Linked DNA regions of Homo sapiens: all the other regions are linked to region 3. Evidence: fine-mapped expression QTL. A gene starts in region 3. Each other region holds a variant in brackets. All regions are shown on one strand. Distances are from middle to middle.

The links.
Region 1: its variant is fine-mapped to the expression of BARD1 in naive CD8 T cells (Schmiedel 2018, PIP 0.91).
Region 2: its variant is fine-mapped to the expression of BARD1 in monocytes (BLUEPRINT, PIP 0.95). The same link has a PIP of 0.9 or more in monocytes after interferon gamma.
Region 4: its variant is fine-mapped to the expression of BARD1 in B cells (Fairfax 2012, PIP 0.95).

What each region holds. Positions count from the first base shown.
Region 1 is chr2:214,892,690-214,895,453 of GRCh38, forward strand. The region is part of intron 2 of SNHG31 (small nucleolar RNA host gene 31); the gene reads left to right. Among named protein-coding and RNA genes, the nearest start is that of SNORA70I, 47 kb to the left of the region's middle. The variant G/GA (reference allele first, on the strand shown) is at 1,062.
Region 2 is chr2:214,756,591-214,759,090 of GRCh38, forward strand. All of the region lies in intron 6 of BARD1 (BRCA1 associated RING domain 1), which reads right to left. Among named protein-coding and RNA genes, the nearest start is that of BARD1, 52 kb to the right of the region's middle. The variant C/CA (reference allele first, on the strand shown) is at 1,343.
Region 3 is chr2:214,808,123-214,810,847 of GRCh38, forward strand. It overlaps BARD1 (BRCA1 associated RING domain 1), which reads right to left and starts at 1,561. Exons shown (of 11, transcript NM_000465.4): 1 at 1,290-1,561. The coding sequence starts at 1,447. It overlaps SNHG31 (small nucleolar RNA host gene 31), which reads left to right and starts at 2,107. Exons shown (of 4, transcript NR_110292.1): 1 at 2,107-2,310. RefSeq lists enhancers at 500-549, 840-919 and a silencer at 1,470-2,039.
Region 4 is chr2:214,769,004-214,771,503 of GRCh38, forward strand. BARD1 (BRCA1 associated RING domain 1) reads right to left here. Exons shown (of 11, transcript NM_000465.4): 5 at 229-309. Among named protein-coding and RNA genes, the nearest start is that of BARD1, 39 kb to the right of the region's middle. The variant A/C (reference allele first, on the strand shown) is at 1,266.

The DNA.
Region 1 (2,764 bases), 85 kb after region 3:
AATGAATGTCCACTGAACAAACACAACATCAAAAGAAAGTGTGGGACTATTTTGTGAACAACTAAACACCTCAAGAATAGTGGTAATAGTAATGCACGTTTATCAGGCACTCTTCTAAATCTTTTACATGTATGAACTCATTTCATCCTCACAACAGCTTGGTGAGGCAGTACTATTATTATTCTCATTTTGTGGATGAGGACACCAGAGTGCAAGTAACGAGTCTAGGTACACTTAGTAGAGTTAGGGGGAGGGCTAAATTTTAAACCTGGCCATCTTGCCCCAGAATTCACACTCTTACCCATTTTTTCTGAGGCCCCTGTAGATGTCAGTGCATCCTAGCCCAGTATAATAACCCAAGCTTACAATGATGGTCCTGAGTCACCAAGAAGATACAATTCTGTTCCAGAGGGCAGAAAGAATTCTCTCAAAACCTAATGGGGTGGTTGGGGGGAGAGCATCAGGAAGAATAGCTAAGGGATGCTGGGCTTCATAACTAGGTGATGGGTTGATCTGTGCACCAAACCACCATGGCACACTTTCACCTATGCAACAAACTTGCACATCCTGCACATGTACCCTGAACATAGAATAAAAGCTGAAGAAAAATAAATTATTAAAAAATAATGTCACTTTAAGGGGCCAGCTATTGTTATCTGGAAAATTCACTTATATGGGGCACTCTAAACAGTGTTGTTACTCTTTTATGGCCATTCACTTTTTCATGATGTTTACTGAATACCTGAGTCATACCACATCTTTAATTTAGACCTAAATTTTTATAAGCTATGGGTACATACACTAATATATGAGGGGGCTTGTTCATGGAAAAATGGAATTAAAAGTTCATGGAAAATCGAATTAAAAGATAAAAACAAAAAAAAAAGACTTTATTTCTCAACTTGGGCTTCATCAAGTTCAAGACACCTTTCTAAGCAGTATCAGCCATTTAGTCCATCCCTAAAGAACTGAGGGTCCTGGGAATTTAACCATGTCAGTGCAGTCTTTTTTATATTACTCACAAAAGAAAGGGTGTCTTCTAAAGATTTTCTAAGATAAAG[G/GA]AAAAAAAAAAAATCAGAAGGAGCCAAATCAATACTGTAAGTTTAGTTGTCTGATGATTTGCTATATAAACTCTCACAAAATTGCCCTCATTTGATGAGGGAAACAAGCAGGAGCATTGTTGTGGTGGACAAGGACTCCTTGGTGAAGCTTTCCTGGGTGTTTTCTGCTAAATCTTTAGCTAACTTTCTCAAAATACTCTCATAATAAGCAGATCTTTTCATCCATTGGCCCTCCAGAAAGTCAACAAGCCAAATAACTTAAGCATCCCAAAAAACTCTTGGCATGACATTTGCCCTTGACCAGGCTATTTCTACTTTGACTGGACCACTTCCACCTCTTGGTAGCCTTGTGTTGATTGTGCTTTGTCTTCAGGATCATCCTGGTAAAGTCATATTTCATCACCTGTTCCAATTCTTCAAAGACATGCTTCAGGGTATACATATATCTGTTTGTCTGCCAAGGTGAAAGAATGCTTCAGGATCTTGATCCCACTTGTTTAATATTTCCATTGAAAGTTCTTTCTGCACCTGATCTGGACACAATGCTTTTGGCACTCATTGAATGGAAAGTTTGCTCAAGTTTAATTTTTTAGTCAGAATTGTGTGAGCTGAAGCAACTGAGATGTCTATGGTGTTGGTTATTCTTTCTGCTGTTAATCATCAGTCCTCTTCAATTAGGGAACAAATGATTAATTTTTCCTCATGAAATGATGTGATGGTCTGCTGCTGTGGGCTTCATCTTCAATGTCATCTCATTTTTTTTTTTTTTTTTTTTTTTTTGTGACAGACTGTCACTCTGACACCCAGGCTGGAGTACAGTGGTATGATCTTGGCTCACTGCATCCTCTGCCTGCTGGGTTCAAGCAATTCTCCTGCTTCAGCCTCCAGAGTAGCTGGGACTACAGGTGTGCACCACCATGCCCGGCTAATTTTTGTATTTATAGTAGAGATGGGATTTCCCCATGTTGGCCAGGCTGGTCTTGAACTCCTGACTTCAGGTGAGCTGCCCGCCTTAGCCTCCCAAAGTGCTGGGATTGCAAGCATGAGTTACCATGCCCAGCCAGAGTTTTTTTTATCATTTGCATTGTCCATGAATTTTTTGAAGACCCCCTTTCTATTTCTGGATTATGCCAGCAACAATTTTATGTATGGCTTAGCACATTTTGATGCTATGTAATTTTTGTATTACACAGCCTTTTAAAGTTTTTGATCAAGAATAATCAAAGTGGTATATATTAGATCCACATTTACAGCCCCAAACTGAAAACGAATTAACATTTTCCCCTGTAACACATCCGTAGAATTAACATGATAACTATCAATTCTATTTTTCTGAAAGTTTGGCCAGGTGATTAAAATAAACTTTGTTTTTCCATTATATTTTTCAAATAAAGGAATTTCAATTACCTCACAATTAAGGCACAGTTAGTTTGTCACAGGTCATGACTTAATTGCCTCAATCTGGAATTTCCAGCCAAATTATCTCATTAGCATTCAGAGCCTTTAGGCCACTGAAAGTCTAACTAAACAAAACATGGTGTCATAAATTTTTGTCTGAGAAAGGGCAGTTAGGGGTATTAAAAACACATACAAATAGAAAAGAAACCATCCAGGACATTTAACCATTTCTTCCTAAGAAATTCCCAAGATTGACGATGTTTGAAAAGTAAGCTAATGCATGGAAAGCATGTTTTTTTTCTGGC
Region 2 (2,500 bases), 52 kb before region 3:
ATCAATGAGTGGATAAAGAAACTGTGGTGTATATATACAATAGAATACCACTCAGCCATAAAAATGAATGAACTAATGGCATTCACAGCAACCTGGATGGGACTGGAGACTATTATTCTAGGTGACGTAACTCAGGAGGGAAAATCAAACATTGTATGTTCTCATTCATAAGTGGAAGCTAAGCTATGGGGATGCAAAGGCATAAGAATGACACAACAGACTTCACGGACTCAAGGGGAAAAGGTGGGAAGGTGGTGAAGGATAAAAGACTACAAACTGGGTTCAGTGTGTACTGCTCGGGTGATGGGTACACCACAATCTCACAAATCACCACTAAAAAACTTACTTGTGTAACCAAATACCACTTGTTCCCAAAAACCTATGGAAATAAAAAAATTATAATAAATAAATAAATTAAAAGGCTGCAGCACCTCCTCGCCTCTTCCTCCTGCTCTGACCACGTAAGATGTGCCTGCTTCCCCTTCATCTCCCACCATGACTGTAAGTTTCCTGAGGCCCTTCCTGTATAGCCTGGGGAGCCATGAGCCAATTAAACCTCTTTTCCTTATAAATTACCCAGTCTCAGGTGTTTCACAGCAGTATGAAAAGGGACTAATACATATACTGAATCCTAAAAATTCAAAGGCTCTAATTTTTTTTCTGTTCCTTGACAACACAGTACACTGGCAGATTTCACCAGTTTTTTTTTTTTCTAATGTACTCTTGCGCTATTCCTTTACCTATGATTTTAAATCATAATGTGGAAAATATGCTTTATAAAATCTTTAAAGATATGACTGGAGATTTTACATTTTAAAATCTTGAACAGACAATCCAGGTGTTCATGTGTCATTGCTTTTTGCTATCTAAAATGTAGTATGAAATACTGGATGATTTGTTACTGATGTTGATAGAACCTATGTGAAAATGGATATATGTATTAATATACATAATGCATGATATATATATTGCATATATCAGAAGTAGCAATAATCGTTTATTTATTTAACACACATGGAATGAATATATTTGTATAAACAAGTAGGGGGAAAAGTCACAAACTCTGTTTTGCAATTAGTTTGGAAAATAGTCATCATTCAGCAAATACTTTGAAAAAAATGTACCAACAACTTTTGGCACTATAGAAACAATGTCCTCACAGAACTCAGAGGAGGAAAGCAGAGAGGCACACAGAAAAGGTTTTGCAGTCTGGTAAAGCTCCCCAGACCTGAAAGGGTAAGGAAGAAAAGCGGGTACACAAACAGAATAAGAATATCCTAGCAGACAGAAAAGTGTGTGAAGGACTTTAAGTGAGATAGCACTTAGAACTTTTTAGAACCAC[C/CA]AAAAAAAAGGAAAAAAGGGGGTAAAGGGAGAGTGAGAGAAAGAGAGGGAATGTACCACAGGAATATGAGGTACTCTCGAACTGTAAGCTATGGTCAGATTATATAAGAACAAAGAGGAGGTGTTAAAGAGTTGGACTTCCTCCCAAAGGCAATAAGAAACCCTGAACAGCTTCCTAAATCATTGTAAGCAGGAGGGATGGCATCAACGTAGCATGGTAGTTAAGAGTTGGGGTTACCGAATAAGACTGCCTGAACTTACATTTCAGCCCTGCCACTCAAAAGTCTTATGACTTTACACGAATTACTTAAATCCCGTGCCTGTTTCCTCATTTATAAGATGGAAATAATAACACTATCTATTTTACAGGATTGTTGCCAGAATCAAATGAATACATCAAAAGCATTTAAAACAGTACCTAGCATATATGAACAGCTCAATAACTGCCATTATATTACTGTATTGGATTTGCATTTTTGGAAGACAGATACAGAATGAAGATAAGGGCACAAAATAAGTTATGTCTGGAGCATTAACCTCATATCTTCATTTTCCCCAATTTTATGATACAATTGATGCATGTTTTTCATGATAATCTGGAAGTTTACTAAGGGAAAGTATAGAATTATGTCTTCTTAACAACATTCTAAGAGTAGATTTTCATTTTCCCATGTGGCACTATCTAAAGAGTATGAACCACATAACTCTGAAAATCCTTTTCCTAACTAGGAATCCTTCTGATCCTGAAGATGAGGAAAAGGAAGTACTTATGAAAGGGCTAAACTGTGGTGTTCAATGTTTCAGTTTTGTCCCAAAGGCCACATTCAGGATGCAGTATAACCTTTTAATATCCTTTTCCCCTCAGTAATAATATGGCAGACACCTGCCTACAATGGTGATCTGAATTCATTACACCACTAATAAAAGAGAGAAAGGAGAGATGGGCAAATTTAAACTTGTACTTGCATGTACAGACCATCCAAACTGCAAAAACATATGCAAAAAGGCATTTTTACTAATACTAAATCTATCACGCATGACAGGATACCAAGAGAGTTCATGAATGAAACCCTTCATGAATAACTACAAAACTGCAAACATATAGATTTAATTTTTCAAGTCACTTTGCTTGCTATGGAGCAGGATAAAGCAGAGTAAT
Region 3 (2,725 bases):
AGTTTGGCCGGGCACCGTGGCTCACGCCTGTAATCCCAGCACTTTGGGAGGCAGAGGCGGGCGGATCACGAGGTCAGGAGACGGAGACCATCCTGGCTAACACGGTGAAACCCCATCTGTACTAAAAATACAAAAAATTAGCCGGGCATGATGGCGGGCGCCTGCAGTCCCAGCTACTTGGGAGGCTGAAGCAGGAGAATGGCGTGAACCCGGGAGGCGGAGCTTGCAGTGAGACAAGATCGTGCCACTGCACTCCAGCCTGGGCGACAGAGCGAGACTCCGTCTCAAAAAAGGAAAGAAAAGAAAAAGTTGTGTTACTTATACTTTATGCAACTAGGTAACTTAAGTTCTGCAAGTTAGAAATCAAAGGGGAAAAAAGTCCAAAAAGGATATAAACTTTTGACAGCTACAAATAACAAAAAAACTGCCAGTGATCTTCATACAGAAATACTTAGCTGTACACACAGCAAGTGCTCAATAAAAATGCTTTTCAGAAGAAATGAAAATGAGACAAACCTTTCTTGGGTTTTACAAACCTTCTTGGTTTGTATACTAGAAAGAGCTACACGAAAAAAAGCAAGAAGTAACACTCATGAAAATGTCTTTGGACGGAATGAAAACCCTGAGAGGACTCCCATAATGTGACAGCATGAAGGAAAACAATAAACAGCATCACTAAGAGCGGGGACACCAGACATACAGTCTTTTGAGCAAACTAAGAAAATGAGAAATTCCGTGCCATCTTCAATCTACAACTATGGTAGATATCCGATGCTCCATCCCATCTCACTCGAAAAAGCTGGCACGGAGAAAATGTCAAAAAGGCCAGTTTAACTTAGAGTGGCAGCTGCTTCTAATTTAGAGGGTCTCCGGGGCGGCCCGCCAGCCCAATTCGCCACAGCTCCCGGAAAGCAGCGGGGTAATCCAGGGCCGGGTAAAAAATGCAGAAGCCTCAGCCCCACCCCAGCCCGATTCAAACTCTGGAGGCGCGACCGGGATGAACATTTTTTTAGCCACACCTCCAGACGGTTCTTCAGCCCGCTGAAGTTCAAAAACTACCGTTTCAGTTGGATTCAGGGCAAGGGGAGGCCGGTAAGTCGCCCAAAAATAAAGTGAATGAGAAGCAGAAGTTGTTAATACTATATCCCCCGGCAGGTGCTAACCGCACGCCGACCCGACTGCAGCGCGGGAACGGAAGGAGGAAACGGAAGATTTGAAAAGATTCTGCCGCCCCCAGAAACTGTGCGACCCGTGCCCTCGCAGCCACCCCCAAGAAGCTCCGTCTTTACCAACGCGAGCAGCGCAGCAGCTTCTCCAGGCGGTCGAGCGCGGCGCGACTGTGGGCCCAGGCACCGCGACCATCCGGTTCCATGGCGGGCGCGGAACGAGGCTCGTTCCCGGAGCGGATCCTCGGCTGCCGGTTCCTCGGCTGCCGATTATCCGGCATCGTCCCGCCTTCGGATGAAAGGCTCCTCGCAGAGCGGGAAGCAAGGAAGCCTCGGGAAACCACAGGGAAGCTGCAGGCCAGCGACTCGAAACCGGCCAAGCTCTTCCCGCGTCTGGGACGGCGGGCCGCCAGAGGGGCGGGGCGCGCGGGGAGGGGCGGGGCACGGCGGCCGCAATGCTCCCAAAATAGGGACTCGCAGGGCACAGGGGCGGGGCCGCGAGAGCCAGCCGCTGGCCGAGTGGGCGGGACCTAGGGGTGGGGCTGGAGGCTGAAACTTGCCAAAGTCCCGGCGTGTGGGACTTAGGGGAGGGGCCGCGAGAGCCGTGGGACCGAGGGGGCGGGGCCGGACGGCTGAAACTTGCCAAAGTCCCGGCGCGCGGGTCCTAGGGGCGGAGCCGCGAGAACACGCCGGGGACAGAGGGGGCGGGGCCTAGGAGCCTCGGGGCGGGACAGGACGGTCGAAACCGAAGTCCTGGCGCGCGGGGCCCAGGGGCGGGGCCTAGGGGCCTCGGGGCAGGACAGGACGGCTGAAACCGAGGTCCCGGCGCGCGGGGCCCAGGCGCCGTGCAGTGAGAGCACGCCGCTTGACCGAAGGGGCGGGGCCTGAAGGCTGAGCGCAGTCGCGAGGCTGTAGTTGGCAGGAGAGCGGGCGGGGCCTGAAGCCCCTCTGGGCTGCCTGGACGGATGAAGTCCAGGTGGAAAGCCAGTCGACGTTTCCCGGGAGCTACGACTCCAGGGACCCTCATCCGAGCTTAACCGTTGGAACAATCACAAACCCAGAAACTTTTAGCTGAGTGTTATTTATAAAAAGCGCTGTTTTGACTGCTGTTGGACTTGGAAAAGCTTTGCCCACGATACTGAAGGTACCACTCTTTGTTCCTAAGAAAGCAACCTTTTCTTTCCTCTCACCTCAGCTGTGGCGTATATTGTAACTGAGTAAAAATAAGGAAAGTTTCTAATTCTAACTAGTTAACAAATATCAGCTCAAAGGCATGTCTGAAAAGATCTGGTTTACTTTTAAAATATTGGTATAAAATTTCAAAAAGGGTTTTTTTTGTTAGAGAGTGTGTCCACCTTCCTCCTCCAGATCTTTCACTGATCGCCGTAATTTACAGATAAGACCTACAGAGCAACCCGTCATGCCTTCCTGCCGCGCCCCAAGTTCATTTCCAAGTCCTTGCATTTTTTCCCCCTAACTTGTCTCGAATGCACCCATTTTCTCTCCGTCTCTGCTCCACAACATCCCCAGTTGCCTCGTCCTCGCCTGGTTTCCTGTCG
Region 4 (2,500 bases), 39 kb before region 3:
TGGATTCCTAAATCTAAAGGTAGTCTGTCAAAAGGTAACCAATTTCTTGCCTGTCACAAATGAAAAGCTAGAAGGAAAGTAATCATGTTCTCATACTTGATGAAAACATAAGTTCTTCAGACTAAAAAGAGTATATGTGGCAGAGGATGATATATAGACAACTACATAACTATAAACTATAAGAACTGTAAAACACAGAAAGAATGAGAATAAAAACCAGACAACTACCAATGGTGTCCATCCAGCATGGTCTTTAACATTTGGATCACTTCCATTTTGTAAAAGGTATTCAACAGAAGGTATGTCGCCCTAGAAAAATGAACAAAACGGAAATTAAAAAGCATTAAGGAAAGAAAGGAAAATATTGAGCTTTTTTAAATGCTGCCTTCTTCAATATAAAGTAAAACTTAAATCGTTTTCTCTTAAGGCTACTGTTCATGAGTTAATAAATTATTAGGCCGGGTGTGGTGGCTCACGCCTGTAATCCCAACACTTTGAGAGGCCAAGGTGGGTGGATCACCTGAGGTCAGGAGTTTGAGACCAGCCTGGTCAACATGGTGAAACCCCGTCTCTACTAAAAATACAAAACTAGTCGGGCATGGTGGTGCCAGCCTGTAATCCCAGCTACTTGGGAGGCTGAGGCAGGAGAATCACTTGAGCCCAGGAGGCAGAGGTTGCAGTGAGCCAAGATCATGTCACTGCACTCCAGCCTGGGCCACAGAGCAAGACTCCGTCTCAAAAAAACAAAACAAAAAAGAAATTGTCTGCGTATAAATTATTCTGAGATATCAAGAAGTACAGTCATGCTTGAATATAGACTACAAAATCTATTAGAAAGCCATATTCAAAATTCATTTCAGGTACCAAATAAAGGACACTGGCCAAAGATCATGTGCTCACAATGAAGTTTTAAAAGCCATAATTTCACTTGTGAAAAAAACAATTTTTGAGCATTTGTAAATGGCTTCTGAGTATTGTTTAAAACAACCAAAACTGTTTAGCCCAGAAGACTACTCAGTGAAACCAAAGTTAAAAAACAGCCAAAAACTGCCATTTTATTGGCAGTTACTCCATCCTAATACATTTAGTTTATATTCACCTTATTTGTTCAACATTTTCTAGGAAGCAACAGTTGCTCTGTTTAAAATGGCAAAAAAAGAGATCAGTACAAACCTATTCAAATCAGCCCACAGAATTAGCATTAAATTTTTTATCCCCCTGCTCCCCGCCCAGTTCAAGACTAAAATCACCACCCATTATCAACT[A/C]ATTCAACTATACGAAATAGAGCTTCTGTAATGTAGCCTTACAAGTCTTTTCTAACAAGTGGTTTTCAATTTCTCTATTTCTCTATTCCAGTACTCTGGAGAGCTATGCAACAATGTTATAACAGTAGCAACAGTAGCACACTGATGCAATGGAGAAGGCAGATGAGGAATAGTAAGAAATACAATAACTTTACTTTAGAAATCACAACCTCTTTTTAAATCAGATGAGCAAGATCCGGGGAATAAGTGAATTAAAATGAGGCACAAGGCAAGGAAAATACTCTGAAGGCAGACAATATTAATTCGACTTTCATATTAAGACACCGTCAATTATTAAATAGCATTAAAATTGAAGACCCCTTCCAGTTTTGAACTTTCTGTGTCTTGTGTGTCATGATCCAACTAAATCCTACTATAAATGAGTAGACTTTTAAGGTCACTTTAAAGCTGTCTTGAAGTAAGACAAAAAAAATAGCTTCCCTCTGCTGCCAGCCTCCAGCGAAGGTAGACTGTGGCAAAGGAGTTCTGGGGAACTGGTCTCAGGTAGTCTGCCCTCCCACTCTTCTTTTTTATTTTCCTAGAAGTGAGAGATAATAATCCTCCAGCTATCTAATACCAGGGTCTCTTAAATTTGGCCCTTCATGTAATGTGGAAAGATCTGACATCTATCATTTATATTTAATTACATATTACGTTTTAAGTATCCGTTAACTCTTAAAGCCTTTTTAAAAATCTCTAGCTGTAATATAAAGGATACTGTCCCTTTGTAAAACAATGTCAGGCTTTAGGAAGAAGGAGGCATTTATGCAGCGGGATGAAGGTAAAAATTTTCTTGAAATTACATTATTATCACCACTCACTGCAAATATAACTAATCAGTTCTTTTAGGATAACAGGGCAGGGTACAGTACCTAAGTCCATGACGATAAAGCAAAAATATCTAGCAGAGCATACTCTCAAAAAAGACCAAATAAAAAGCTATAGACAGAAGTTACATGCATAACATTGTGTTCAATGAGTTTCGTGAGTGCTTCTTTAGTGAATAAATCTCTCCCCACCCAACCCCTCTCCCAATACTTTTTTCTGAAATTTTTTTCCTCTGTTGGTTTGATAATGTAGAAATCACTAATTCTCCTAAATATAATATTTGATTTTTTTTTCTTTTTAAAAAATTTTGCTGGCCAGACGTGGTGGCTCACACCTGTAATCCCAGCACTTTGGGAGGCTGAGGCAGG